4 linked regions of the Homo sapiens genome follow. The protein of the gene in region 1 interacts with the protein of each later gene in a biochemical or structural test. Each region holds a gene or a part of one and is shown in the gene's direction. Other genes may lie near its edges.

Region 1 (7,356 bases):
GGAGTCTTGCTCTGTCACCCAGGCTGGAGTGCAGTGGTGCACGATCTCAGCTCACCACAATCTCCGCCTCCCAGGTTCAAGCAATTCTCCTGCCTCAGCCTCCCAAGTAGCTGGGACTACAGGTGCCCGCCACCACGCCCGGCTAATTTTTGTGTTTTTAGTAGAGTCAGGGTTTCACCATGTTGGCCAGGCTGGTCTCAAACTCCTGGCCTCAAGTGATCTGACTGCCTCAGCCTCCCAAAATTCTGGGATTACAGGCATGACCCACTGCACCCAACCTCCAAAAAAGAACACATTTCTGAGAAACTAAATTAGTTACCTAAGTTTATGAAGCCCTCTATGGGACAGGTTCAGACTAATCCCTGTAAAGTGAGCACTCCAGATGTTTCCTTTGTTGCCATTTATCAACTTGATAAACAAGGATTGTTGGATGACTACAACAATGAAGGGACAGAGAGGTCAAGGTGATTCACAGGTTTCTAAACTGGTGAGTGGATATGGTTCCACTCACCAAAATTGAGAATACAGGTTGCTAATTCTAAATACAGACTCACTTTATCTTGGCACAAGTTAATGTGTAAAATAAAAGTTTCCTGGGGATGGGAGGAGTATGAAGTTGTTGCTTAATGGGCATAGAGTTTCAGTTTTGCAAGATGAAAGGAGTTCTAGGCCAGGCCCGTTGGGTCACACCTGTAATCCCAGCGCTTTGGGAGGCCGAGGTGCATGGGTCACTTGAGGTCAGGAGTTCAAGACTAGCCTGGCCAACATGGTGAAACCCCGTCTCTCCTAAGAATACATACAAAAAAGTAGCCAGGCGTGGTGGCAGGTGCCTGTAATCCCAGCTACTTGGGAGGCTGAGGCAGGAGAATTGCTTGAACCCGGGAGGCAGAGGTTGCAGTGAGCCAAGATAGCACCATTGCATTCCAGCCTAGGCAACAAGAGCAAAACTCCATTTCAAAAAAAAAAAAGAAGAGAAAAAGAAAAGAATTCTGAAGATTGGTAGATTGGTTACATAACAATTTGAATGTACTTCTGAACTGCATACTTTAAAATGGTTAAGATGGTAAATTTCATGTTATATATGTTTTACCACAATAAAAATTGAATGAAAGGTTTTCCTTTCCTAGCTTACCCATGTCCACCCATTGTTCAAATTGGAGCTTTCTCTCTTAGCTTCTGTGATGAGTGAAAAGGTGCTCCCCAAAGATATTTTAAAATACTAATATAAGGAATATTATTTCACTCATTCATTTTCAGAGGGAGCTCAAGAAGTTGTCAAGTGAATGAATTAATTAGTTCAACAAATATTTATCAGTTTTCCTACCTTGAACCTGGGATGTTCTAAGTCCTTTGTTCTCAAAGTGTGGTCTCCAGATCAGCAACACTAGCATCACCAGGGAATTTGTTAGTAATATACATTCCTGTGGGGCACGGTGGTTCATGCCCGTAATCCCAGCACTTTGCGAGGCCGAGATGTGCAGGTTGCTTGAGTCCAGGAGTTTGAGACCAGCTTGGGCAACATGGTGACACCCCGTCTCTACAAAATAAAAAATTAGCTGGGCATGGTGGTGCACACCTGTAGTCCCAGCCACTTGGGAGGCTGAGGTGGAAGGGTTGCTTGAGCCTGGGAGGTTGAGGCTGCAGTGAGCTGTGATCATGCCACTGCACTCAGGGAGAAAAAGAAAAAAAGGAAAGAAAGAAGTATACATCTCTGGACCCCACTTCAGACATACTGAATCAGAAACTTTGGCACTAGGACCCAACAATAGCTGTTTTTACCAGCCTTTCAGATTATTCTGATGCATGCTCAAGTTTAAGAAAGACAATTCTAGGTTGCAATGATACAGAGGCCAAGAAAACAAAACGCCTGTTCTCTTGGAGCAACAACAGACAAATAGATATAAATAAAATTTCAGGCAAAGGAAAGTGTTATCAGGGAAACCAGCATAGGATAAGGAGGCAGAACACAGAGGATGCTCAGGCAGGGTCTTTCTGAGGGGTATGAGCTCTGAAGTCACATAGAGTCTGAAAATTGGCTCCACCAGTTTCTAGCCTTTTAAAAGTCTGGTTTCCTCATCTTCTAAGAAAGAGATAATAATATTACAAGTTTACTCTGAAGATTAAATAAGATAACACTTATAAAATCCTTGCAACTGTTTCTGCCACTGAGTAAGGCTTCAATAAACGTTAGCCCTCCATATATGATGGGGAGTGCCATAGATGTATACCTGGGAATCGTTGATGTAGAAATTAATAGTAAATGGATGAAAAGGTGGATAAACCAAGACACAAAAAGAGAAGAGGATGGATGATGGGCTCTTGTTGGTGGGGACAGAAGTGGATTGAGAGATGGTGGGGAAGTAAAGAAATGAAGATGTGGAGAGGGAGCTTTTTTCTGAACCCAGCTAAAGGTGGAAACTTGGAAGAGGAGGCCAGTGGATTGGGTGAAGAACCAACCATTTGGTATACCTGTGACTGAGGAGGTTCTCAGGATGCAGGACTTTTAGTGCTAAAACTAGGAAAGTCCTGGGCAAGCTGGGCCAAGCTGGCCACACTGGCAGTGGATATGACCATGGAGGGTGAAGTGAGCAATAAATACTCTGACCTTTCTTTCCTGGTGGCCTCTCATCTCCTTACAGTAACCTTATAAGGTGTCTTTACAGGGGCCTGACCCAACCAGAAGGGCAAGGGAGCTGGGATAATACAGTCTAGAGAGGTCAGCCTTGCCTTGACACACACCAGGGTAAAGGAAGGACAGAGAATTGACCTGGAGAGGCAAAAAATAATGGCCAGCACAGTGGCAAAACTGGGATTAGAATTGTCTGGGATAGGCCAGGTGCGGTGACTCACACCTGTAATCCCAGCACTTTGGGAGGCTGAGACGGGCGGATCACGAGGTCAGGAGTTCAAGATCAGCCTGGCCAAAATGGTGAAATCTTGTCTCTACTAAAGTTACAAAAAATTATCTGAGCGTGGTGGCACATGCCTATAATCCTAGCTACTCAGGAGGCTGAGGCAGGAGAATCGCTTGAACCCGGGAGGCGGAGGTTGCAGTGAGCCGAGATCACGCCATTGCACCCAGCCATGGTGACAGGGAGAGACTCTGTCTCAACAAAAAAAAAAAAAAAAAAAAAAGAACTGTGTCTGGGATAAACCTGATTTCAGAGCTTCAATTCTTTTTCCAGCCTTGTTTAAAGGTAGAATGCCCTCTAGGAGTGATGAGTGCTTTCTACATCCTCAAATTAACTCTACAGAGAATTATAAAGATTATCCAACCATATTCTTTGGTATCTGAGCAGCCCACAAAACTTTTTTCTTTAGAGACAAGGTCTCCCTCTATCGCCTACGCTGAAGTGCAGTGGTGCGATCATAACTCACTCTAACCTCAAACTCCTGGACTCAAGCCATCCTCCCACCTCGGCCTCCCAAAGCGTTGAGATTACAAGCGTGAGCCATGGAGCCCGGCCCTCTTTAAAAAATAAAAGTGGGCCGGGCACAGTGGCTCACGCCTGTGAGGGGTATGAGGCCTCCCAGCACTTTGGGAGGCCGAGGCGAGGATCATTTGAGATCAGGAGTTCGAGACCAGCCTGGCCAACATGGTGAAACCCCGTCTCTACTAAAAATACAAAAATTAGCCAGGGGTTGGTGGCGGGTGCCTGTAATCCTAGCTACTCAGGAGGCTGAGGCACGAGAATCGCTTGAACCCGGGAGGCGGAGGTTGCAGTGAGCCGAGATCGCGCCACTGCATTTCATCCTGGCTAACAGAGGGAGACTCCATCTCAAAAAAAAAAAAAGTGTGTGTGTATACACATACATGTGTATGTGTATATATGTGTATGTATATATGTGTGTACATATGTGTGTGTGTGTGTATATATATATATATATATATATATATATATATATATATATATTCAGTGGTAAGTGTCATGTACAAGAGGCACACAGGATCTAGCTGCTCCAGAAATGAAGTCAGTGGAGAAAATCCCCACGGGAACCTTGGAATTCCTCTAAAAAGTTCAGGTACAGGACACTCCCAGGTGCCCAGGAACCGTTTCCCAGCTCACTTCCCCCCGAAAGACTCACCCCTCCAATCGCACTCGATGCTTTGGCAAGTGTCAAAGGTCAAAGACCACGGCTCGCCTGGTACCGACTGCCCCGCCCCCGTGCACCTCCAGCTCCCCCAGGCTCCGCTACCAGCAGCTGCGACCCGCCAACTCAGCCTGGGTAATAGGAGATTGGGCGGCCAGAGGCGCTGCGTGATTGGTGGGTCGGAAGGGGGCGGGGACTCGCTGGAAAGCCCCCTCTGGATTGGTGCAAACCATCTGGGTGGGACCTCCACTCTGGCTGGGCGGGAAAGCAAGAACAGCACTGCTGGGCTGGAGACGGCGGGAGCCGCTGCTCTCCGGCTGAGGGAATCAGAGACAGCTCCGTCCCTAGTGGAGCGCAGGGGAGGCAGAAGTCATGACAGGCGAGGTGGGTTCTGAGGTGAGTTTATGCACACGCCCCCCACGGGGGCTTAGAAGGCCGGGCACCGAGAGGTTAGGTGGGGCCGGGGTAGACCCCGCTGACCCGAGGCGCCCGGGCGGGAGGACTGCGGCTCCCGGCGTTCGCCGCGCCGGCTCCCGCGGCCTCGAGACTCGGCCGGGATGGGTTCCGACCGGGCATCCCGTCCCGCCGCCGGGCTTCCCGCGCTTCGGGCTCCGTGGCCGGAGAGCTCCAGGTCTCTGCGGCGCGCACTGCCGGCAGCCCAGCCCCTCTTCAGCCGGTTCCTGCCGCCAGCCCTCCCCTTTGGCGCGTTTCCTGTCGCGGAAGCTCCTCCCCTCAGGGTGCTCTGAAAGCCGGGAGGCTCTAGCCGAACCCGGCCGCAGCGGTGCGGGGGGATTCTCCGCAGAGAGAGGGCGAGCGAGGGTGTTAGGGAGTTCCACACTGGGCCTGGGAGGGGCCCTGGAGGTCATCGCGCGCAGGCCCTTTGCGTTTTCCGACCGGGCCCCGAGTGGGGAAGTCACCGCTGGGGCTCCTGGCTGGTGGCTGGCAGCTCCCTGGCGAAATTGGGCATAGAAAACAGATGTTTCCAGAGCTGTGTCCTTTCTGGGCCGGATTCGGGCAAGGCACTCCCGCCTTAGGAGCAAAATTTAAAGGGGCGCCAAAACCCTCAATCAAACTCATATTTTAATGCAATATTTTTAAAAAACCAAAATTAATGCAAAAACTTTTTATGATTTGATATTGAACAAAATATCAGACGTTTAAACAAAGACGAGATCCGACCAGTCATTTGCACGACCTTGCCTCAATCACCTCACCCTAATTCCATCCCTGTTTCCAATAAACTTTATTTACAAAAGCGGGCATATTATTTACCTCATGAGCTGTAGATTATTGATTTAATTTTTTAAAAAATATTGCATTAATGTTATTCATTTTGATTACTGAATTTTTTGAGACCTCACCCCACCCTGTTACTGGCCCTGCCCTTTGACGTTGCTGCAAATTGCCTAGAAGATAATCGTCATTCAAAGCAGCCCTATTCCTTGAGCTGTCTGGTTACCTAAATTCGGTTTCCACACTCACAAACAGAAGTAATAGTTTTACTGCTTTGGATTGTTGAGAGGATCATCAGTGCATACATATTAATTCTCAGCAATCCCAGCACTTCGGGAGGCTAAGGCCGGCAGATTGCTTGAGCTCAAGAGTTCGAAACCAGCCTGCATAGAAAACATGGCAAAACCCCGCCTCTACAAAAAAAAAAAAATTAGCCGGGCGTCGCCTGTGGTCCCAGCTACTCGGTCCCAGCTACTCGGGTGGCTGAGGTGAGAGAATCCTTTGGGCCTGGGAGGTCAAGGCTGCAGTGAGCCATGATCCTGCCACTGCACTCCAGCCTAGGTGACAGAGTGAGACACTGTATCAAAAAAAAAAAAAATTTGTACCTTGCATTCAAATCAATTTAATAATTTTTTTTTTTTTGAGACGGAGTCTCGCTCTGTTGCCCAGACTGGAGTGCAGTGGCACAATCTCGGCTCACTGCAACTTCTGTCTCCTGGATTCAAGCGATTCTCCTGCCCCAGCCTCCTGAGCAGCTGGGACTACAGGCACACACCACCACGCCCAGCTAATTTTTGTATTTTTAGTAGATACGGGGTTTTACTGTATTGGCCAGGCTAGTCTCGAACTCCTGACCTTGTGATCCACCCACCTCGGCCTCCCAAAGTGCTGGGATTACAGGCGTGAGCCACCATGCCTGACCAATTTAATAATTTTTTGAGAAACCACTCAGCTGAGGCCTTGTGCCCTGTTACATTACTGATGTTCATATTTCTCCCTTTATTAATAAGTTGATTCAGAGCCCTGAGAACACTAAGGAGGTAGACTTGGCATCTAGGGTTAGCTTTAAGGTCACTAACTGATCAAGTCACCTAACACACCCCTCCTCCTTAGGTTTTTATTTGCGACTTTTTAAACTGTCTTATTTAGAAATTTTCAAACCTATACAACCGTAGAAAGGATGGTATAATGAACCCATCACCTTACTTCAACTACAGTTTGAATATCTCTCGTCTGAAATGCTTGGGACCAGAAGCGTTTTGAATTTCAGATTCATTTTGGATTTTGGAATATTCGCATACACATAATGAGATATCTTGGGGGAGGGACCCAAGTCTAAACATGAAATTCAGTTATATTTCATATATACCTTACACACATAGTCTGAAGGTAATTTTATACAGCATTTTAAAATAATTTCGTGCATGAAGCAAAGGTTTTACTGCAGCTCATCATATGAGGTCAGGTGTGGAATTTTCATCTAGTGGCATCATGTCAGTGCTCAAATATTTTGGAATTGGGAGCATTTCAGATTTTCAGGTTAGAGATGTTCAACCTGTATTTTCAAGTCATGGCCAATCTTGTTTTATTCATACAGCTACCCATTTTTCCTCTCACAGGATTATTTGGAAGAAAATCCAAGATATCATATTATTTGAACCACAAAGATTTTAGTGTGCATATCTAACAAACAAGAGCTTTCCAAAAATAGATACTACGATATTATTACCACACCTAAGAAGTATCTAGTCAGTGTTCAGATTTCTTTGACTCAGAGATATTTCATTTATTTTTATATGCCACTTTAGCATAATTATTTACATTTTTAGTTTTTTGAATCATCATCCGAAGTTGGCATTTTGTAATTGTTTATATTATATATGTGTATATATGCATATATGTATGTATTTTAAGATATACATACATATATAAAGCATACATTTATGTATATAGAAATATACAGGGCCGGTTGTGGTGGCTTACGCTTGTAATTCCAGCATTTTGGGAGGCTGAGGCAGGCGGATCACCTGA
Region 2 (7,024 bases), on another chromosome or scaffold:
TTTTAGTAGAGTCAGGGTTTTGCCATGTTGACTAGGCTGGTCTTGAACTCCTGACCTCAAGTGATCCGCCTGCCTTGGCCTCCCAAAGTGCTGGGATTACAGGCAGGAGCCACCGCACCTGGCCTCTCCTTCTGTTTAGACAGTCACATGATAGGGCTCAATATTGCTCAAAATGCTTATTGAATGCATTTGTGAACTTGGTAGATATTTATGAATTTTTATAGAAAAGGCTATAAAACAGTATATGCAATATCTTGTTTTTGTTGTGCATGTGTATTAACAGTTAAAAGTCTGTATAATACAGGCTGGGCGCCATGGCTAATGCCTGTAATCCCAGCCCTTTGCTGGGCCAAGGCAGGAGGATCGCTTGAGCCCAGGAGTTTGAGACCAGCCTGGGCAACAGCGTGAGACCCTGTCTCTACAAAAAATAAAATTAGCTAGGCATGGTGGCGCATGCTTGTAATCCCAGCTACTTGGGAGGCTGAGGTGGGAGGATCACTTGAGCCCGGGAGTTCAAGGTTGCAGTGAGCTATAGTTGTGCTACTGCACTCCAGCCTGGGCGACGAGCAAGACTCTATCTCTTAAAAAAAGTCCACATAGCCCAGGCGCGGTGGCTCATTCCTGTAATCCCAGCACTTTGGGAGGCCGAGGCGGGCAGATCACGAGGTCAGGAGATCGAGACCATCCTGGCTAACACGGTGAAACCCCGTCTCTACTAAAAATACAAAAAATTAGTCAGGCATAGTAGCGGGCACCTGTAGTCCCAGCTAGTCAGGAGGCTGAGGCAGGAGAATGGCATGAACCTGGGAGGCGGAGCTTGCAGTGAGCCAAGATTGCACCATTGCACTCCAGCCTGGGCAACAGAGCGAGACTCTGTCTCAAAAAGAAAAAAAAAAACGTCTACATAAGATACATACAGACTATTAACAGCAGTTCTCTCAGGAAAATGGGGTTGCATGTTTATGTTTCTATTTTTCTCCAAATTTATTATAAATAAAATATTTTTTTTATTGCCAATAAAAAAATGCAAGTCAACATCTGGACACAGTGGCTCATGTTATCCTAACACTTTGGGAGGATCACTGGAGCCCAGTAGTTTGAGACCAGCCTGGGCAATATAAAAAGGTTAGCTGGGTGCTGTGCATGCACCTGTAGTCTCAGCTACTGAGAAGGGCGAGGTGGGAGGATCCCTTGAGCCCAGAAGTTGGAGTCAGCAGTGAGCTCTGATTGTGCCACTGCACTCCAGCCTGGGTGACAAAGCAAGACCCTGTCTCTAAAAAAACACAGACACACACAAATCAAGGAGTTCCCAGGGCAAGGCCACCAATCCTATCTCTTTTCACAGTACCTTCTGCTCAGCTGGACTGGCTCAGCCCAGTAGGGCCTTCCGGGCAGTAGGGCTGGACTTCCAGCCCTTGGGAGACACCTGGGCCTCTGACCCCAGCCCCTCTGTTCACTGTTTTCCTCACTTTGGGTCTTTAACACAGGACTCCCCGCCACCCTCCCACCCTCTGAAAGCTGTTCCTATTGCTGTGGCTGATGAAGGAGAGTCTGAGTCAGAGGACGATGACCTGAAACCTCGAGGTAATGGCCCCCACAGCAGGGGAAGCTGATGGGCTGGGCTGGGGGCCCTCATCTGGAGGCTGGAAACCGCCAGAGTCTTGGTCTCTATTTGCACCTGCTATATGGGCAAGGAAGGATGGGGTGACGGATAAGCTGTTTAGCATGGTGGCTTCACCCCAGAAGTTGGCTGGCCTAGCTAAGGTTCTGGAGAGCTGGCTATCTTGTCCCCTCTCCCAGCTGGGTGACCCTGGGCAGGCCGACCCCTCTGCTGTATGGTCTGGACAGTGGGCCTGGCTGGGCGGAGGGGCAAAGGAGTTCATCTGTTTAAAACACTCAGGTAACCGCAGCTGTTGTGAGCAGGAACCACGTTAGTTTACTGGGAAGATTCCTGGGGTGGAACGCTTCCACCATGTCCTCTTCTTGGGTCTTGGGCAGTTGAGAGCCACACCTTTGTGCCAAATGTGACTTGCAAGGTTTCCTCGGTGGGGCAGGGTGCTCACCTGCTCCTCCCCGTTGTGTTTATTTCCCAGGCCTCACGGGCATGAAGAACCTCGGGAACTCCTGCTACATGAACGCTGCCCTGCAGGCCCTGTCCAATTGGTAGGTCGACACTTTGTCCGAGGGCCGAGAGCTGTCCCTGGCAAAGCCCCGGAAACAGCAGCAGTAGCAGCCCCCAGCCGGTTGCCCACAAACACATGTATAGGATGCACAGCAAAATGCCTGAAAGCATGTATACCCTTTGACCCAGCAATCCTCCCAGTCAGAATGTATCCTGAGGAGATAACCGGAGATGCTGGGGAAGTTGTACGTGCAAGGAGGCTCAGTGCTCTGTTGTTTACTGGAAATGATTTAAAGGCCCATCTGCAAGAGAGTATAAATTCTCATAGCCCTTGCAGCAAGTGCAGGAAAAATGGCACAAGACAACATGCATTGAAACAAGAAGGGGTTCAGAATCTGGTGAGTGGGGGAAAAAGGAGGTTATAAAGCATTGCATGGTACAATCCCGTTTTATGGGAGAAATGCGATTTTCCATTAAGGATAAGGCTGTGAGCTCCATGAGGCCAAGGATGTCTCCTGTGTCTGACGTGCTTCTCCTACCCAGTGGAGGTTAGAGATGCAGTATATGTATGCGGGAAGCAGAGAGGGAATGGGTACAAATGCGTAGAAAAGTCTGGAAGGCTATGTCCCAAAATGTTCCTAGTAACTATCCTCAGGTGGCAGGATGCAGGTCAATTATTGTTAATAATTGACCACACCCAGGCTGGGCGCAGTAGCCCACGCCTGTAATCCCAGCACTTTGGTAGGCCGAGGCAGATGGATCACCAGGTCAGGAGATAGAGACCATTCTGGCTAACATGGTGAAACCCTGTCTCTACTAAAAATACAAAAAACTAGCTGGACGTGGTGGCACGCACCTGTAGTCCCAGCTACTGGGGAGGCTGAGGCAGGAGAATCGCTTGAACCCGGGAGGCGGAGGTTGCAGTGAGCTGAGATCATGCCATTGCATTCCAGCCTGGGTGACAGAGCGAGACTCCGTCTCAAAAAAAAAAAGAAAAATTGACCGCACCCAATCCGTTTTAACTTTAATAACCTCTTTAAAGGCCCTGTCTTGGCTGGGCACCGTGGCTTACGCCTGTAATCCCAGCACTTTGGGAGGTCAAGGCAAGTGGATCGCCTGAGGTCAGGAGTTCAAGACCAGCCTGGCCAACTAGTAGAGCCTGTCTCTACTAAAAATACAAAAAAATTAGCCAGGCATTGTGGCATGTGCCTGTAATCCCAGCTACTCGGGAGGCTAAGGCAGGAGAAGCACTTGAACCCGGGAGGCAGAGGTTGCAATGAACCAAGATTGCACCACTGGACTCCAGCCTGGGCAACAGAGGGAGACTCTGTTTCAAAATAATAATAATAATAATAAAAAAATAAGGTAAGATAGATAAGATGAGATAAAATAAAAATGCCCTGTCTCTGGGAGTTAGGGCTTCGCAGATGAATTTTGGAGGATACAATTTTCTCATAACTGGTAGGAGCCTTCTAGTCACCTTCAGGAGTTTCTGGGTCCAGGGCCACTGTGCTCCCTGTGCGAGCACTCAGGGCTCCCCGCTATGCAGCCCTTTCTAAACTGCCGCATGCCTCATTTGCTCTCCTGACCTGGCTCTCTCTCCCCTGCACCCAGCCCGCCGCTGACTCAGTTCTTCTTGGAGTGTGGCGGCCTGGTGCGCACAGATAAGAAGCCAGCCCTGTGCAAGAGCTACCAGAAGCTGGTCTCTGAGGTCTGGCATAAGAAACGGTGAGCAGCTGCATCCCTAGCCTTGGGCGGTGTGTGGGGACTGGGGTTTCCTGTCAGCACCCATGATTGAGTACTTCCTGTGGATTCAGCCCCCAGCGAGGACTTGCCTCACTTTGTCCCGGGTAATGCTTGCAGCAAGCCTGCGGGGTGGAAATTGCATCCAGTCCTGTTTTACAAATAGGGAAACTGAGGTGCAGAGCACTTTAAGTATCTTGCTCAAGGTCATAGAACCTGCAAAAAGTGAGCTAGAATTTGACCTACTGTTGACCCTACCGAGCAGCCACTGGTAGATGTCTTTGCCAAGAGACATGGTGACCCGGCCTCAGCCAGGACTGTGTGTGTAGAAGGAGGTGTGGGGCAGGGGAGCACAGACTGGATGGAGCTTCTGGCACAGTATGAAATTAATTTAAAGATCAGAGTCTGTGATTAGATCTGTTTCTCCAGGAAAAGTCAAAGTTGGGAATAATTTTAAATGAGCACATAGAAATATGTATTATGTGTAGAAGCGGATGAAAAACCAGCGTAGGGCCAGGCGCAGTGGCTCACGCCTGTAATCCCTGCACTTTGAGAGGCTGAGGCAGGTGGATCACGAGGTCAAGAGATCGAGACCGTTCTGGCCAACATGGTGAAACCCCGTGTCTAATAAAAATACAAAAATTAGCTGGGTGTGGTGGCGTGTGCCTGTAGTCCCAGCTACTCGGGAGGCTGAGGCAGGAGAATCACTTGAACCTGGGAGGCGGAGGTGGCAGTGAGCCGAGATCGCACCACTGCACTCCAGCCTGTTGACAAAGCGAGACTCTGTCTCAAAAAAAAAAAAACAAAAACAAAACAAACCAGCATGGGAGAAATATGTATTAAATGTAGAAGCAGATTAAAAACCAGCGTGGGGCCAGATGCAGTCACTGACACCTGTAAATCCAGCACTTTGGGAGGCCGAGGCAGGAGAATCATTTGAGCCTAGGAGTTTGAGACCGGCCTGGACAACACAGCAAGACCCCGCCTCTACAAAAACTACAAAATTAGCTGAGTGTGGTGTGAGCACTTGTGGTCCCAGCTACTCAGGAGGCTGAGGTGGGAGGATCGCTTGAGTCCAGGAAGTTGAGGCAGGCTGCAGTGAGCTTGATCATGCCATTGCACTTCAGCCTGGGCGACAGAGTGAGACCCTGTCTCAAAAAAAAAAAAAAAAAAAAAAAAGTCTGTGTGCAGTGGCTCACTCCTGTAATCCCAGTACTTTGGGAGGCCGAGGCGGGTGGATCGCAAGGTCAGGAGTTCGAGACCAGCCTGGCCAATGTGGTGAAACCCCGTCTCTACTAAAAATACAAAAATTAGCTGGGCATGGTGGCGCGCACCTGTATTCCCAGCACTTTGGGAGGCTGAGACAGGAGAATCACTTGAACTCGGGAGGCGGAGGTTGCAGCAAGCCAAGATCATGCCACTGCACTCTAGCCTGGGAAACAGAGCAAGACTCTGTCCCAAAAAAAAAAAAAAAAAAACCCAGCATGGTACAATATAATTCCGCTTGTGTAAGAAGCCAAGTTTAAATGTGTATCTGTATGTATTTTTGTATATGCATCTGTAGTTTCACAGAACCAGAAATCTAATGGTAAGTATCTGGTGCCATTGGTGGTGGTGTTTTTCTCTTGTACTTTTCTGAAATTTTAGATTTGTCAATAATGAACATGTCTTACTTTTGAAATGAGAAAACCACAGTAAGTGTTTCAGAATGAAAACAAATCATGTTTAGGCGAGTTTGTTGTGCACCAGAAGGAAATGATGCTATTTTATTTGAGCTCTTTGCTTAATTGAGGCAGCTATGACTTGACATTTTCTTCTTGTCTGTAGAGATGTGTGAGCCTCTTGGGGCTCCTGGCTGAGTAGGCCCCTCCCCAAATGTCAGGAAACGCCACACTCTGATCCAGCCTGACGGGCTGGCTGCCTGCTTCTCTCGGGAATGAGCAGCTCAAGGCAGGCTACCTGGACTAATGGGTTTGGGCTTCCTACAGGCCAAGCTACGTGGTCCCCACCAGTCTGTCTCATGGGATCAAGTTGGTCAACCCAATGTTCCGAGGCTATGCCCAGCAGGTAAGCCATCTGAGCTGCCCAGGGGACACCCAAGGCCATGACCCACCAGGCCTGACTTTGACGCCAAAACCAGAGTGGAAAATCGCAATGGCAGCTGAGCACTGGTTGGCAGGTCTCACGGACCAGGCTCTCACTCCTAAGCCCTTCACACGTGTGAGGACAGTGGAGCCTCCCAGCAACCTGCTGACATTTAACCCCACTTCACAGATGGACAGACTGAGGTTCAGGGGCCGAGCCACTTGCACAGGCCACACAGCTAGTAAATGGTGGAGGGGAATTCTTTTTTTTGTGGGGGAGGGTGGGTACAGGGTCTCACTCTGTCACCCAGGCTGGAGTGCAGTGGTGCAGTCATGGCTTACTGCACCCTCGACCTCCCGGGCTCAAGCAGTCGTCCCACCTCAGGCTCCGAAAGTGCTGTGATTATAGGCATGAGCCACTGCACCCGGCGGAGGGGAGATTTGAACCCAGGCAACCTTGCTGCAGGGCCTCCGCGTTGCACCCAAAATGACACAGGGTTTCATTTCCCCAAACCACAGGCAAAATTTCACTTTTATTAAAGTAAAAAGTTTGATTAAAAATTTTTTTTAAATCTAGAGAACCCTTTTGAAACCAATCACATTTTTCTATTTTATAAAATAATGAGACCAAGACAGAGTGCAGCCACGCGTACACCTCAGCCCCGGGCTGATGGCTCCTGCCCTCCAGCCTCCTGCCCCAGATGGCCCACAGCCTGGGCTTTCATGCCAGGCCTGCAGGCAGAGCTGGACCTGGCTGGGTCACCTCTTGTGCTGCCTGAAATGAGCACCATGGACGGAGTGGCAGTCATGTGGGGACAACTTCCGCCCTCTACCCCCTGCCTGCTGTCCCGTCCCAGGATGAAGTCTGCTGGGCCTTTGGCTCCTGCTTGAGAAGCTCAGCACTGCCTGGACACCTCTCTTTTTGGGGAGTGATAACATGCACAATGACTAAAATTCACTGAGCACCATTTAAGTGGTCACAACTTAGTCCTCATAGAAGTCTCACAAAGTGGGCACTGTTGTCACCCACACGTTACAGGTAAAGAGCTGAGGCTCAGAGAGGTTCTACCCCTCA
Region 3 (7,392 bases), on another chromosome or scaffold:
GCAGCCCTCCTGAGCTGTCTCTCTTCTTCTTCCTTTGCACAGTTGCACCCTGCGGTGAGCGTGGGCCAGGCAACCACAGTGGAGATCTTCCTGACGCTCCAGTTCGTGCTCTGCATCTTTGCCACATACGACGAGAGGCGGAATGGCCAACTGGGCTCCGTGGCCCTGGCCGTTGGCTTCTCCCTTGCCCTGGGGCACCTCTTTGGGGTAAGCAGGAAGGAGAGCAACTTCTCATTCAAGGATTCCGGGGCCCCTAAACCTTTCCCAACTTTTAAGGGTTCTTCCTGCCTACTTCACTGTCAAACATGAACATTGTCCATTGCACTCTCTACTGGCACAAAGGAATCAACTCTGCCCTATCCCTCTCTTGTGACTGCTATATCTAGTCCTTCTTGACCCCAAGGTAGAAATGAACGTATCATGGCTAGACATGGGCTTTGCCTATGGATCCATAGTCTGTTCCCAGACAGGGCATCAGTTGCCCTCACCCCATTGCAGGAACCCCTGGAGAGTCATGCAGGCTGTCCCTCTCCACTTGCTGCTGGCTGGAGAAAAGATGGCAGCTCTCAGGGGCAATGTGGGTTGTGGGGAGAGAAGCTGGGGTGCAGTAGGGGGGTGTCTCAGTTACAACTGTCTCTTTTGCAGATGTATTATACTGGTGCAGGCATGAATCCTGCCCGCTCCTTTGCTCCTGCCATTCTCACTGGGAACTTCACTAACCACTGGGTGAGTGAAGGGAGAGGGGCAAGATCCTGAAGCCCTTCTGGATGGTTGTGGACTGCAGGTTCCAGGCTGGATTCCTGCTTTCCTTCTGCGTGTGTTGGCTGCTGTACCAGCACTCAGCTAAGGGGGCTGTCAGAGAGTTTGGCATGCCTGTGTGAGCAGGATTCATGATTTTGCTAGAAGGAGAGGCTCTTGCTCATATTTTTCCTTCTCTGGTTAGTCAGGGAGTATGCACTGAGTATTCACTGGTTGCTGAACTAGCGGGTATGAAGAGAGACAACTAAATATGAGCAGAATAAATTCTGCTCTCAGAGATCAAGATGTGTTGTGAGCACAGATGGGCCTCAGCCCCATTCCAGTTCTAATACGTTATCGGCTTTGTGTGTGACCATGGGCAAATAATCACTCTGTGCTTCAGTTTGTTTTACTATAAAATGGGACATTACGAGAAATGTGTGAAAGTTATATGTGAGAAACATTTAGCACAGAATCTGATATAAAGTAAGCACTCAATAAATATTGGTTATGTTGATGTTGTGCAAGCCAAACATATGGAAATAATTTAAAAATTTTTCAAAGCTGTACACCCATTTTCATAACAGCATTATTCACAATAGCCAAGAGGTAAAAGCAACCCAAGTGTTCCTCAGTGGATGAATGGATAAACAAAATGTGGTATATACATAAATGGAATATTACCTGTAAAAAGGAAGGAAATTGTGACACATACCACAACATGGATGAATCTTGAGGACATTATGCTAAGTGAATAAGCCAGTCACAAAAAGACAAATACTGTATGATTACATTTATATGGGGTATTTAGAGTACTCAAATTCACAGACGCAAAGTAGAAGGATAGTTACCAGGGGCTGATGGGGGTGGGGTGGAATAGGCAGTTGTTTAATGGGTATAGAGTTACAGCTTTGCAAGATGAAAAAGTTCTAGACATAGGTTGCACAACAATGTGAATATACTTAACACTACTAAACTGTACACTTAAAAACATATATATATTTTTTTGAGATGGAGTCTCCCTCTGTCACCCAGGCTGGAGTGCAGTGGAGCTTGATCTCAGGATCTCAGCTCACTGCAACCTCCGCCTCCTGGGTTCAAGCAATTCTCCTGCCTCAGCCTCCTGAGTAGCTGGGATTTCAGGCGCCTGCCACCACGCCCAGCTACTTTTTGTATTTTTAGTAGAGATGGGGTTTCTCCCTGTTGGTCAGGCTGTTCTCAAATGGCTGACCTTGTGATCCGCCCGTCTTGTGATCCGCCCGTCTCAGCCTCCCAAAGTGCTGGGATTACAGGCATAAGCCACTGCGCCTGTCCAAAAATATTTAATATGGTAAATTTTATATGTGTTTTACCACAATGTATAAAATTTTTTTGAAAGCAACATACAAACTAGTGCAAATTGATAACAAATAGAATATACACATGCTAAGGTGTGGGATAAAGGAGTAATTTGATGAATCAGAAAATAAATGGTGAGTTTATTGTAGATATCAAGTGTACAATATCTTGTTTTCCACTAAGGTGGCTGGAAAAAGAGCAGCGTTGCTACTCTGTCCCCTCCCCAAGCCTGAGTATTCCTTTTCTCTTTCTACAGGTGTACTGGGTAGGCCCAATCATTGGAGGGGGTCTGGGCAGCCTCCTGTACGACTTTCTTCTCTTCCCCCGGCTCAAGAGTATTTCTGAGAGACTGTCTGTCCTCAAGGGTGCCAAACCCGATGTCTCCAATGGACAACCAGAGGTCACAGGGGAACCTGTTGAACTGAACACCCAGGCCCTGTAGAAGCTCCAGCTGAATAGAGGGAGTAGAAAGCTTCTGAGTTTACGTGGAGGGGTTTAGCCAGCCCCTAGATGAAGAAAGAGACTGTGGGGAGGGTCATGTACTTCTTTATTTTTTAACTTATGTATGTGGTTGTTTTTTTTTTTTTTTTCCTTTTGCTGTGTGAAATCTTTCAAGTTGCATTCATGAGCTGGTTGGTGCAAACTTCCCTTCCTCCCCATCCCACCACCCTTCGCCGTGTGTGCTGATTGTGCATATGAATGTGAGTGTGGCTGTGTCTGAGTTTTGGGGCATGAGAGCTAAGGAAGCAAAAAGAGGTGCCATCCTATACCTCCCTTCCTCGACCCAGTATGGTGAGTACTGGGTAACCGACACCTTAAGTTTCTGGCCTTTACCCTGCTGCCAGTCAAGTGTGTGGCTCTTGATTTCTGAGGGAACAGAGAAGCAGGGAGTTACTCCTCACACGAGGCAGATGGAGAGAAGTGGAGGAGACAAGGCTTCCAAGGGTTAGGAGAAGGGACTCAAGGGAGGTGGGTGGTGAAAACGGAGTATTAGCCCCAGATCAGGATGTAGGTGTACCGAAGAATTGGGGGGAAGTTAATGGGAATATATAGCCTACTTATCTTAGGGATGCTTGCCCCAGGGACTTGGGTGGGGAAGTAGCTCTGAGAAAAGTGAACACTAGGATTTAGCTGTTCTGTAAAGCCACGTAAACCTGTCTACATCCGCTGGCTGGTTGTGTTCATTCTGACATAATGGATCTCTTCAGAGGTCCTGGGCCAAAGAGCTTCCAACCTAAATAGAGCTTGGGCAAGCCTAGAATCTAGAAAAATTAAGCAGCTTAACTGGTCAGCCTGACATCCACTGTTGTGGCTGCCTGGCAGATGGTATTTAAGCCCCACAATTGTTCCCTAAGGCCAACACAGGAAATCTGATTCCTGGAGCAAATAAATGAACGGGTGGTAGTAGGGGGCATGAGGGGAGAGGCTTTGACTCTGTTCTAATTTATTTAGAGCAAATCAAAACACTCCTCAAATGGCATCTTTCTGCTTTTATCACTAGTTCCGTGTTTTTTTTCTTGTTTTGTGTCTGTGTATTTTCATTTCTCTGTCATCCGTCCTTTCATCTTGAAGCAAATCTCTTCTAACTCCCTCATACCCCAGAAATTGATTCCTTCTATTCAAATGCTTAATAATTCAGGAGATTATTATTTGTTTGAGCCCTATCTTCTTTTTTTTTTTGAGAGGGGGTCTTACTATGTTGACCAGGTTGGAGTGCAATGGATATTCACAGGCACGATCATCGCACACTACAGTCTAGAAATCCTGGGCTCAAGCGATCTTCCTGCTTCAGCCTCCCCAGTAGCTGGGATTACAGGGGGCCAGAGCACAGCCCTATTTTCTTTTCCTTTTGGCAAGATCATCTCAGCAGAGGCCAGAAGAGACCCTCAACTGTTCAATGAATATTTACGGTTGCTTTCTTCCTTTTATGAGCCTCTTGCATACTTTGAAAGCTTTAAATTTATACCTATAATACAACGGACATCCCCTATCCCAGAAGACCATTCCTCCCTGTACTTCAGCTCTTTACTTCCTCCCAAATAAAACCTAACTTTTCTAACTAACTATTTAAGACTTGGAATAGTCCGCTTGACTAGAAGAAGGGGAAGAATGTTTGTAAATTCACCTCTAATCGGACTTTGATTCTACTATAATTCAGCAGAAAATTCATAGCGCTGTGATTTTTAGATCGACCTCACATAAAACAGTCCCTGCACTCGCTTCCCTTTTCCTTCCTTCTTCACCAATCTCCGCCCCAGTTCGCTCGGAGTCACGTGGACCAGCCCGGCTCGCCCCGCCTCGCTCTTCGCGCAGGCGGGGACCGGTCCAGCTGAGCCTGGTGGCGGAAAGGCTGCGGCCCCGCGCCAGAGGGCCGGTGGCTCCTCCGGGCTTCTGAGGACCCGCAGGGAGCGGGTGAGTGAGTGTGTGGCGAGAGGGCGCTAAGCGGACACGGGGATCCTTTCGAAGCTATGGGGGCATTCTCGGGAAACGCTGAGTCCCTTTTCCCGCCACCCGGTTTAGAGCCAGGGGGCGGGGCTCGTGCTGCAGGCGCGCACGCGCAATTCTGTACTCTGCTCCTTAGTCTCCCGCGCCGCGTTCCCGGGTCTCACCGGACGCGGGCTTAGCCCTACGCTGCTCCGCACAGCTTGGGTCTCCCGCGGGATGGGGTTGTGATGGAAAGGGGCTTGGAATTCCTGAATTAGAACAGAAAGTGCCTGAGGGAGTTCCACTTCGGAGCTTAGCATCTAGTTGAGACCTCCTGAAAAAAACCGGTGTGTGGCCTGGCGGTCAGCAGTGGTCGGAATTCACAGGCCGCTTTACTTATATCGTGGGTTTTATGGAACGGATTTCTCACTCCCTCCCTTCGTTGCCTTGTTCGGGTTTGTCACCTGGACCTCAGCCGCTAATGAAGCTTTTTTCCTTGAGCCTCTCAATTCTTTGCCATTCGTGCTTCGACTAGTACTTTCAATTTTTTATTTATTTTATTTTATTTTGAGACGGAGTCTCGTTCTGTCGCCCAGGATGGAGTGCAGTGGCGCCATCTCGGCTCACTGCAACCTCCGCCTCCCGGGTTCAAGCGATTCTCTTGCCTCAGCTTCCTGAGTAGCTGGGATTACAGGCGCGCGCCACCATGCCCGGCTAATTTTTGTATTTTTTTTAGTAGAGATGGGGGTTTCACCTTATTGGTCAGGATGATCTCAAACTCCTGACTTCGTGATCCGCCCGCCTCGGCCTCCCAAAGTGCTGGGATTATAGGCGTGAGCCACCGCGCCTGGCCTGTTTGTTTTTTTTGGTTGTTTTGTTTTGTTTTGTTTTTGAGATGGAGTCTGGCTCTGTCGCCCAGGCTGGAGTGCAGTGGTCCGATCTCGGCTCACTGCAACCTCCGCCTCCCCAGTTCAAGCGATTCTCCTGCCTCAGCCTCCCCAGGAGCTGGGATTACAGCTGCCCGCCACCACGCCCGGCTAATTTTTGTATTTTTAGTAGAGATGGGGTTTCACCATGTTGGCCAGGCCGGTCTCGAACTCCTGACCTCAAATGATCCGCCCGCGTCGGCCTCCCACAGTGCTGGGATTACGGGTGTGAGCCACCACACCCGGCCCTACTAGTACTTTGTACAAAGTAAAGGTAGATCATCTGATGTTAAATTTAAAACTCCTCTTTGACCACCCACAGTTAGCCTTAAATCCGTAGGTGGGTGTCTGTGGCCTCTCAGTCTGGCCCTGACCCTCTCAATCTCATTTTGTAAATCTCTTACGCACCTGACTCCTGGCCACGTGGAAAGATTGTGGCTGCCCTCTTTCATATCTCAGTACTTAGTTCCTGCTGTTCCTTCTGCTTGGAAGATCTTGACACTGCTCTGCCAAGCGAACTTCTCTTTGAAGACTGAGCTTAATTGTCCCTCTGAAAATCAATGTATCCAGCTTCCTATGCCAAGTTAGTCACTTCTTCCTGTGTGTCCCTGAAGTTTTTTACCCCCCTCTATTACCAGGGGCACTGATACAGCTCAATAAAAGATCAATAAAAGGTTACTGAGCTCCTAACATGTACCATGCACTGTGCTTAGCGCCAGGCTTACAGAGATGAGTAGGATGGAGAGTTCCCGACCCTTAAGGAACTCAAGTCCTAAGGAAAACACATGTAATTGAGTCTTCTGTGGTTACAGTGAAAGGGTCATCAAGAAGTCCTTCCTGGCTTCCTTCCTCCTCTCACTGCACTCACACCATCTTACATCCTGATGCCTCCAAATCTTTAGCTCCAAACTCTTCTCCCTCATCTTCCAGACTTCTCTGTTTCAGTTCAATTTAGTAAAGCATTTATTGAGCACTTACATTGTGCTGCGTAATGATGATTCCTGATGTGAAAGAGTTTACGTTTTCGTGCAGTTAACATAGGATAGTTAGAATCACCTGAGGAACATTGTCAAAACACTTGCCTAAGCCCCATCGCTGGAAATTCTGATCCTGTAGCAAGGCTCTGAAAGTTCAAGGGTGAATAAGAATTCCTATCTCTACTAAAAAAAAAAAAAAAAAAAAAAAAAAACAAAAATTAGCTGGGTATGGTGGCATTTTCCTGTAATCCCAGCTACTTGGGAGGCTGAGGCAGGAGAATCACTTGAACCCGGGAGGCGGAGGTTGCAGTGAGCCGAGATTGCACCATTGCATTCCAGCCTGAGTGACAGAGTGAGACTCGTCTCCAAAAAAAAAAAAAATAAAAAGAATTCCTGTCCTCAGGGAATCTAAGGCTAATGGAGGGAGATAGACTTTGATTTTAACTATTATATACAACATGAATTGTAAGTACCATGTTGGAAGTCTGAATATGGTACACAGTAGACATTAAGGAAAAGGAGGTCACTTCTGTATGGAGAAGTCAGGAGGAAGTCCCTTTTGGGCAGTCTTTTTTTTTTTTTTTGAGATGGAGTTTTGCTCTTATTGTCCAGGCTGGAGTGCAGTGGCGTGGTCTCCCAGGTTCAAGCGATTCTCCTGGCTCAGCCTCCCAAGTAGCTGGAATTACAGGCACCCACCACCACACCTGGCTAATTTTTTTTATTTTTAGTAGAGACAGGGTTTCACCATGTTGGCCAGGCTGGTCTTGAAGTCCTGACCTCAGGCGATCCATCCGCCTCAGCCACCCAAAGTGCTGGGATTACAGGCATGAGCCACTGCGCCTGGCCTGCACAGAGTCTTCAGAGCTAAGCTGATATTTGGATGGGAGGCCATTCTAGATAGAGTAGTGGCTTGAGAGAGAAGCGTGAGAGGTAAACAGGAGAGAGATTCATGAAAGACTTTGTATTGTAGGCACTGGAGGTCACTGAAA
Region 4 (7,072 bases), on another chromosome or scaffold:
GAGGCGGGCGGATCACGAGGTCAGGAGATCGAGACCATCCTGGCTAACAAGGTGAAACCCCATCTCTACTAAAAATACAAAAAATTAGCCGGGCGTAGTGGTGGGCACCTGTAGTCCCAGCTACTCGGGAGGCTGAGGCAGGAGAATGGCGTGAACCCAGGAGGCGGAGCTTGCAGTGAGCCTACATCGCGCCACTGCACTCCAGCCTGGGCAACAGAGCGAGACTCCGTCTCAAAAAAAAAAAAAAAGAATATGGATTCATGGCCGGGTGTGGTAGTTCACACCTGTAATCCCAGCACTTTGGGAGGCTGAGGCCTCCAAGAGTTCAAGACCAGCCTGGGCAACAGAATGAGACCCCCTTCTCTACAAAAAATACAAAAATTAGCCAGGTGTGGTGGTTCACAGCTATAATCCCGGCACTTTGGGAGGCTGAGGCAAGCGGATTGCTTAAGCTCAGGAGTTCAAGACCAGCCTGGGCAACATAGTGAGATCCCATCTCTACAGAAAATACAAAAATTAGCTGGGTGTGGCTGCACACTGCATGCCTGTAGTGCCAGCTATTTGGGAGGCTGAGGTAGAAGGATCGCTTGAGCCTACGAGGTGAAGGCTGCAGTGAGCCAAGATTGTGCCTGCACTCCAGCCTGGGTGACAGAGTGAGACCCTGTCTAAAAAGAAAAAAAAAAAAGAGAGAGACTATGGATTCCCCACAAAAATTACAAAAGTGTAGTTAAACTCACATACCTAATTTTAGGTGGGGTTTGTACTATCTATCTTTAGAGATCTCAAAGCAATGAGTATGTTGAAAATAATAGAATAGAGGACATGTGATGAATTAGGAGTCAAGCCAGTTATTCATACACCTATACAAAAGTGCCTGGAGTTTTTAAAAAAGCTGTAGGAAGAGAGGATGTAAACAAATGCTGCTTATAAATCATTTTTCTTCAGGCAGTGGGTAAAATGAGTGATGCATAGGAATTTGCATTTCTACATTGGCTTACGCTATCACATTTAATCATAACTTGATTTTCTTAATAAAACATTTCTTTCTATAGAACACATTTATTATTTACCATAATCATGTTTTAATTTTTTGAAACATCCTAGTCTATCATAGTTTTAGATATATTGTTGTTCATTGAGCTCATTTTATTTACTATTTCAAAGTTTTTTGATATTTAAACCTGTTTGGCAATTGAAATACCAAGCTCTGTTTTGTCAGGGTAACATGTTTACCACTTGTCACTTTCAGCCAGGTTTTTTTTTTTTTTCTTGGAGACGGAGTCTTGCTCTGTCTCAGGCTGGAGTGCAATGGCACGATCTTGGCTCACTGCAACCTCAGCCTCCTGGGTTCAAGCGATTCTCCTGCCTCAGCCTCCCGAGTAGCTGGGATTACAGGCATCTGCCACCATGCCCGGCTAATTTTTTTTTTTTTTTTTTGATTTTTGGTAGAGATGGGGTTTCTCCATGTTGGCCAGGCTGGTCTCAAACTTCTGACCTCAGATGACCCACCCTCCTTGGCCTCCCAAAGTGCTGGGGTTACATGTGTGAGCCACTGCATCCCGCCCAGGTTTTTAAAGGAACAATTAGTGGATGAGCTGAAATTCCATTTGAATTGTGCATGTGTATATACTCCCACATGTATTCATGTCAATGGCAGAGGTGGAGATGTATTAAACATCCTATTGACCCATTTGAGTTTGAAGTGATTTCCTAAAGGTTTTGCTGAAGTGATTGCCTATGGTGAATCAATTTAACCCTGTCTCATGCATACAGGAAACCAATAGACGTGGTGTTTCGTTTAAGTGACCAAAGCTCATTTCCTCTCTGCCCCAGTTAAGGTGGATAACAGTTCAATTTTGGTGTCTATAAAGAGGTTATCATGACCAATAAAATTAGAGCCTGCCGTGGCAAGTATATTCACTGCCATGGAATAGAAAACAAATTTAGGAGCTACTGTTAAGCATTCTGCTTGTAAGAAGACCTATTTAAGATAGGAAAACCAAATGAAGATTTTTACTCATTTTTCTCTGAATGCCCAACTGCATTTCTCTGAATATTTTACCTGCCATAACGATATGGGTTCTTTTCCTTTTTTTTTTTTTTTTCTTTTTTCTGAAACGGAGTCTCGCTCTGTTGCCCAGGCTGGAGTGCAATGGCGCAATCTCGGCTCACTGCAACGTCTGCCTTCTGGGTTCAAATGATTCTCATGCCTCAGCCTCCCGAGTAGGTGGGATCACAGGTGCCCACCACCACGCCCAGCTAATTTTTCTATTTTTAATAGAGACAGGGTTTCACCAGTTTGGCCAGGCTGGTCTCGAACTCCTTACCTCAGGTGATCCTCAGGCCTCGGCTTCCCAAAGTGCTGAGATTACAGGCGTGAGCCACCGCACCCAGCCTCCAGATACGAGTTGTTTTTTTCGAGTATTACTTTGTTAACTTTTACCCCAACCATTCATTTTCCCAATATTTTCAAACCCCAAATCACCCAGACACAATAAATGAGGTCTCTTTTCTTATCCATAGTGTCGGTATGAAAGTTTATTTTGAAGGTTTTTTTTTTTTTTTTTAGACGGAGTCTAGCTCTGTCTCCATGCTGCAGGGCAGTGGCGCGGTCTCGGCTCACTGCAACCTCCGCCTCCCGGGTTCCCGCGATTCTCCTGCCTCAGTCTCCCGAGTAGCTGGGACTACAGGCACACGCCACCACGCCCAGCTAATTTTTGTTTGTTTGTTTATTTATTTATTATTATTTTTGAGACGGAGTCTCGCTCTGTCATCAGGCTGGAGTGCCATTGGAGTGCAATGGCACGATCTCGGCTCACTGCAATCTCCGCCTCCCGGGTTCAAGCAATTCCCCTGCTTCAGCCTCCCGTGTAACTGGGACTACAGGCACGTGCCACCACCCCCAGCCAATTTTTTGTATTTTAGTAGAGACGGGGTTTCACCATGTTGGCCAGGATGGTCTCCATCTCCTGACCTCGTGATCTGCCCGCCTCGGCCTCCCAAAGTGCTTACAGGAGGACTACAGGCGCGAGCCACCGCGCCCGGCCAATTTTTGTATTTTTAGTAGAGACGGAGTTTCACCATGTTGGCCAGGATGGTCTCCATCTCCTGACCTCGTGATCCGCCAGTCTCGGCTTCCCAAAGTGTTGGGATTACAGGTGTGAGCCACCGCACCCGGCATATTTTGAGTTTTGAGTGGAGGATTAGACAGTCTTCTTCCTTCCCAAATTTGATTATGGGCTCCCTTTAGCCTTTTTCTTTGTTTTCTGTCTTTTTTCCACCACCACCCCGCCCCCGAGGCGCAGTCTCAAGAGGTCCTGAGAACATGTGCCCTGCTCTCTGTTTTAAGGATTAAAATAACTGTCGAGTTACATTGAATCTTTTTTGCCTATTCCATTTGGCTAGGTTAATTCCAGACCTTACACAAACATGTGCAGCTCTTACAAAATGTAGGTGAAGACAACATTTTTCTAACCATTCGGCTTCATGGGCTGTCACAGGAGAACTAAGTGCATGAAAAACCTTTCACAACATTGAAAGAAATTTTAAAAATCTGGTTGAAACACAATTAAAAATCCACAAGAGGGAGATGCTTGCTAAACCGTCAGAAAATAATTCCCTCGAGGGACCTGAGAGAGGAGCCTGGAGCCTTAGGAACAGCCACTGGGTCAGCCACGGGATTAAGGGTGGGAGGGAGCAGGAGTATATAGAGACGGGGGCTTGGTGGAGGAGTACAGTTGAAGGGAAAAGCGGGATGGGTTTCGTGCCTCTGGCAGCGAAGCGTGTACTTGGTCTAAGATCTTGAGCAGAAGGTAAGAGCGTGTTGCCAAAGCAGAGCTCAGTGCTCCCGATATATCTTCTGGTAGTCCCAGAAGAAATGGGGGTGGGTTGCTTTGAAGGCACTTCCGCTTAGCAACCCCACGCGGTTGCTAAGGAGGGGGCAGCCGTGGGGATAACCCGGAAGTGATGGTGTCAGTTTAACGCTGCCTGCCCAAAGTTTGTCCTATTAGGCCCGCCAGGGTACTCTGCGACTCCGGGACGAGGGCGGGGCCGCGCTAGTGGTTCCGGTTCGGCTCCAGCCGCCCCTCGGCTCCTCGCCTTCCCCCTCCCGTCCGCCTTCTCCCCTCCCTCCCGCTCCTGGGAAAGAGAGAAACCACCGCTGCGGGTGGGTAGAGAAGCACTTGGCGCCTCGGGGAGGGGACCGCGCCCGCCTCATTTGCGCCTTGCAGCACTGCTGGACCAGGTATCTGCCCGGCTTCGTCGGGGTTCTGTAGGCTGAAGTCTGAGGGGGTGTGTGTGTGTCTGAGGGGGTTGGTGGGGGGCCCTTTCCTGGGCGTGGGTGGGGGACGCCGTGATCCCGGGTGGGGCGCAGGCTGGCGTTTGTGTCTGTGGAGGGTTGCGGGGGCGGAATGGAGGGGCTGAGGGACACAGCGGGTGGAGAGTTTCGGTTAGCGGGGTAGAGGTAGGCGGAGGAGGCGCCCCTTCCGAGAAACTGACTCTAGCCGGTGTGGACCGGGAGTTTGCCACCTGGAGGGCTTACTCTGAAAGGGGGAGCATCCCCCGGGAGCCAAAAGGAGGGCACAGATCTCGTCAGGGTGACTGGGGCTATCCCGTGCTTCCATTGCCCTCTTTCCCTACCCACCCCGCTGGGACAGAGCTGGACTTCGAAGGTTGTGGGGGTTCTGAGTCGACTGGGTACCGCGGGGAGCCGCCCTTGGCGGAGCTTAGGGCACAAGAGTGGGTAATGAGACTTTCCTCTACCCAACTTCCGTACGCTTCCCCCACTTCTTCCTTTACTGTTTCCTCGCCCCCACGTCCTACAGGAGCAATGTCCCCCAAGTGGGCAGGCATCACAATGTAAAAGAGAGTGGAACTGGGTTTGTTGCCCCTAAATGACACTTAAGATGTTTGGAAAGTGCCTGAATGACATATTCAACCAAGTCTCCCAGCTCGATATTAATTCCGGTATAAATTACCTTAGAAAAGTGGAATTCTGAAAAGCATTTAACAATAGGCTAGTCCAGGTGTAGTCTTGTGTAGTAGATGTACGTGTTTATTTAAAAAGAATGGACTGGGGAAACCATATAGATGTATCACAGGTCTAGGCAAGACATGTTGAGGCAAGGCTTTTGCAGCCTCTTTCTTACCTGCCAGTAAACCTGTCCTAATTTAAATGAAGTAGAAAGATCCTCTTCATTTTTGTTTCAATCAGTGACTGAATACTAGGTGCTGTGTAGTGATGTCTCAGAACAGATATGTGAATTTTCAGAGAGAGAATGAATGTTCTGCTGTTGAGCCTGTGTCTTAATCTTTTAAGGAGATAATTGCGGTCAAGTGGAAGTATTGACTTTCAGGCAGATAAATCTTGGGTTGAACCTAGACTATGCCAGTTGCTAGTTACTGACCTTGGGCAAGTCATGGAACCTACCAGAGCTTTTGTTTCTTCATAAGTAGTATGAGTTAAAATTCTTACCTGTATTATAAGTAACATCCCATTTTAAACGGAACCACCTTTGAATTAGAAGATAAATTATTACCATTAATCATACACAGTCAAGGCAGCCCAGTTTTGTGAAACGAGGTTTGAGATAGGAAAGCAACCGGATAATTTTGAAAAAAAAATGCATACAATAGGACTTTCAGTGTCTTCTCGAAATTGATCGTAGGTAGCATGAAATTCAGTTATCAGTAGTTTCTTAAAATTCAAAATAATAAAGTAGAATATGGCCCATTTATTGAAATGAGCAAAATATATTTTATAGATTTTTCTCAGCTACACCATATTGGTGTTTATAGTATGGATTAACACGAAATACATGAAAAAGTAATGTATGTAAATCTTAACATCACATGTCTCTTTAAAGAGAATTAAAATTGGGGTGTAAAATAGAAGGTACTTGTTTTTTGTTTGTTTGTTTGTTTGTTTGAGACAGAGTCTTGCTCTATCACCCAGGCTGGAGTGCAGTGGCACGATCTCGGCTCAGTGCAACCTCTACCTCCAGGATTCAAGCGATTCTCCTGCCTCAGCCTCCTGAGTAGCTGGGATCACAGGCGCCTGCCACTACACCCAGCTAATTTTTTGTATTTTTAGTAGAGAGAGGGTTTTACCATGTTGGTCAGGTTGGTCTTGAACTCCTGACCTTGTAATCCATCCGCCTTGGTCTCCCAAAGTGCTGGGATTACAGGTGTGAGCCACCGTGCCCGGCCTACTTGTAATTTTAAGATAAAAATCAGCAGCATCAGCAGCACCTCTCATCTCAGTTAGATTTATGCTACTAGAAAAACTTATATAATATTCAGAAAACAAAATCGAATACATTTCTGCCTTTAAATCATTCCTTATTACGATATAGAAATAAATCCAAGAAACATGAAGTCTGTTTTTTATTTATTTTTAGTGACAAGGTCTTTCTCTGTCACTTAGGCCAGAATGAATGCACTGGGGCAATTATACTCACTGCAGCCTCAAACTCCTGGGTTCAAGCAAACCTCCTGCGTCGCCCTCCCAAAGTGTTGAGATTACAGGTGTGAGCCACCTCACCCAGCCCATGAAGTCTTTTTCTTTCTTTTTTTTTTTTTTTTTTGAAATGGAGTCTCACTCTGTCACCCAGGCTGGAGTGTGGTGGCACGATCTCGGCTCACTGAAACCTCCACCTCCCAGGTTCAAGCAATTCTCCTGCCTCAGCCTCCTGAGTAGCTGGGATTACAGGCACATGCCACCACATCCAGCTAATTTTTTTGTATTTTTAGTAGAGACGAAGTGTCATCATGTTAGCCAGGATGGTGTCTATCTCCTGACCTCGTGATCCACCCGCCTCAGCCTCCCAAAGTGCTGGGATTACAGGCATGAGCCACCGTACCCGGCCAAAGTCTTTATACTCATTTGTTTTGTGGATTTAAAATAATATAGTTATGTGTCACCTATTATATGTCAGATTTTCAGCTAACGTAGTTTGCTTTTTGAGGTGACTTATAGTTAGTTATTTTCAAATGTAATTTATACTCAGAGGACAAAAATCAAATAACTTCCTGTAATAATAGATGTTTGTGAGAATACAAAGTTTGCAATTCA

The links.
Region 2: of the proteins of CLSPN (region 1) and USP20, one has a biochemical effect on the other in vitro, tested with the Homo sapiens proteins (2 studies listed by BioGRID, with this or other methods).
Region 3: the proteins of CLSPN (region 1) and TIMELESS form a complex in vitro, tested with the Homo sapiens proteins (one study listed by BioGRID).
Region 4: of the proteins of CLSPN (region 1) and CSNK1G1, one has a biochemical effect on the other in vitro, tested with the Homo sapiens proteins (2 studies listed by BioGRID).

The regions. Positions count from the first base shown.
Region 1 is NC_000001.11:35,766,979-35,774,334, reverse strand, and holds the start of CLSPN (claspin), read left to right. Parts: upstream 1-4,356; 5' UTR 4,357-4,464; coding exon 4,465-4,488; intron 4,489-7,356.
Region 2 is NC_000009.12:129,859,450-129,866,473, forward strand, and holds part of USP20 (ubiquitin carboxyl-terminal hydrolase 20), read left to right. Parts: intron 1-1,487; coding exon 1,488-1,584; intron 1,585-2,093; coding exon 2,094-2,163; intron 2,164-3,736; coding exon 3,737-3,850; intron 3,851-5,853; coding exon 5,854-5,932; intron 5,933-7,024.
Region 3 is NC_000012.12:56,446,406-56,453,797, reverse strand, and holds the start of TIMELESS (protein timeless homolog), read left to right. Parts: upstream 1-4,371; 5' UTR 4,372-4,488; intron 4,489-7,392. Other genes in the region: MIP (lens fiber major intrinsic protein), read left to right, coding at 43-207, 646-726, 2,333-2,518. UniProt on the Homo sapiens protein: Plays an important role in the control of DNA replication, maintenance of replication fork stability, maintenance of genome stability throughout normal DNA replication, DNA repair and in the regulation of the circadian clock.
Region 4 is NC_000015.10:64,353,159-64,360,230, reverse strand, and holds the start of CSNK1G1 (casein kinase I isoform gamma-1), read left to right. Parts: upstream 1-4,057; 5' UTR 4,058-4,243; intron 4,244-7,072.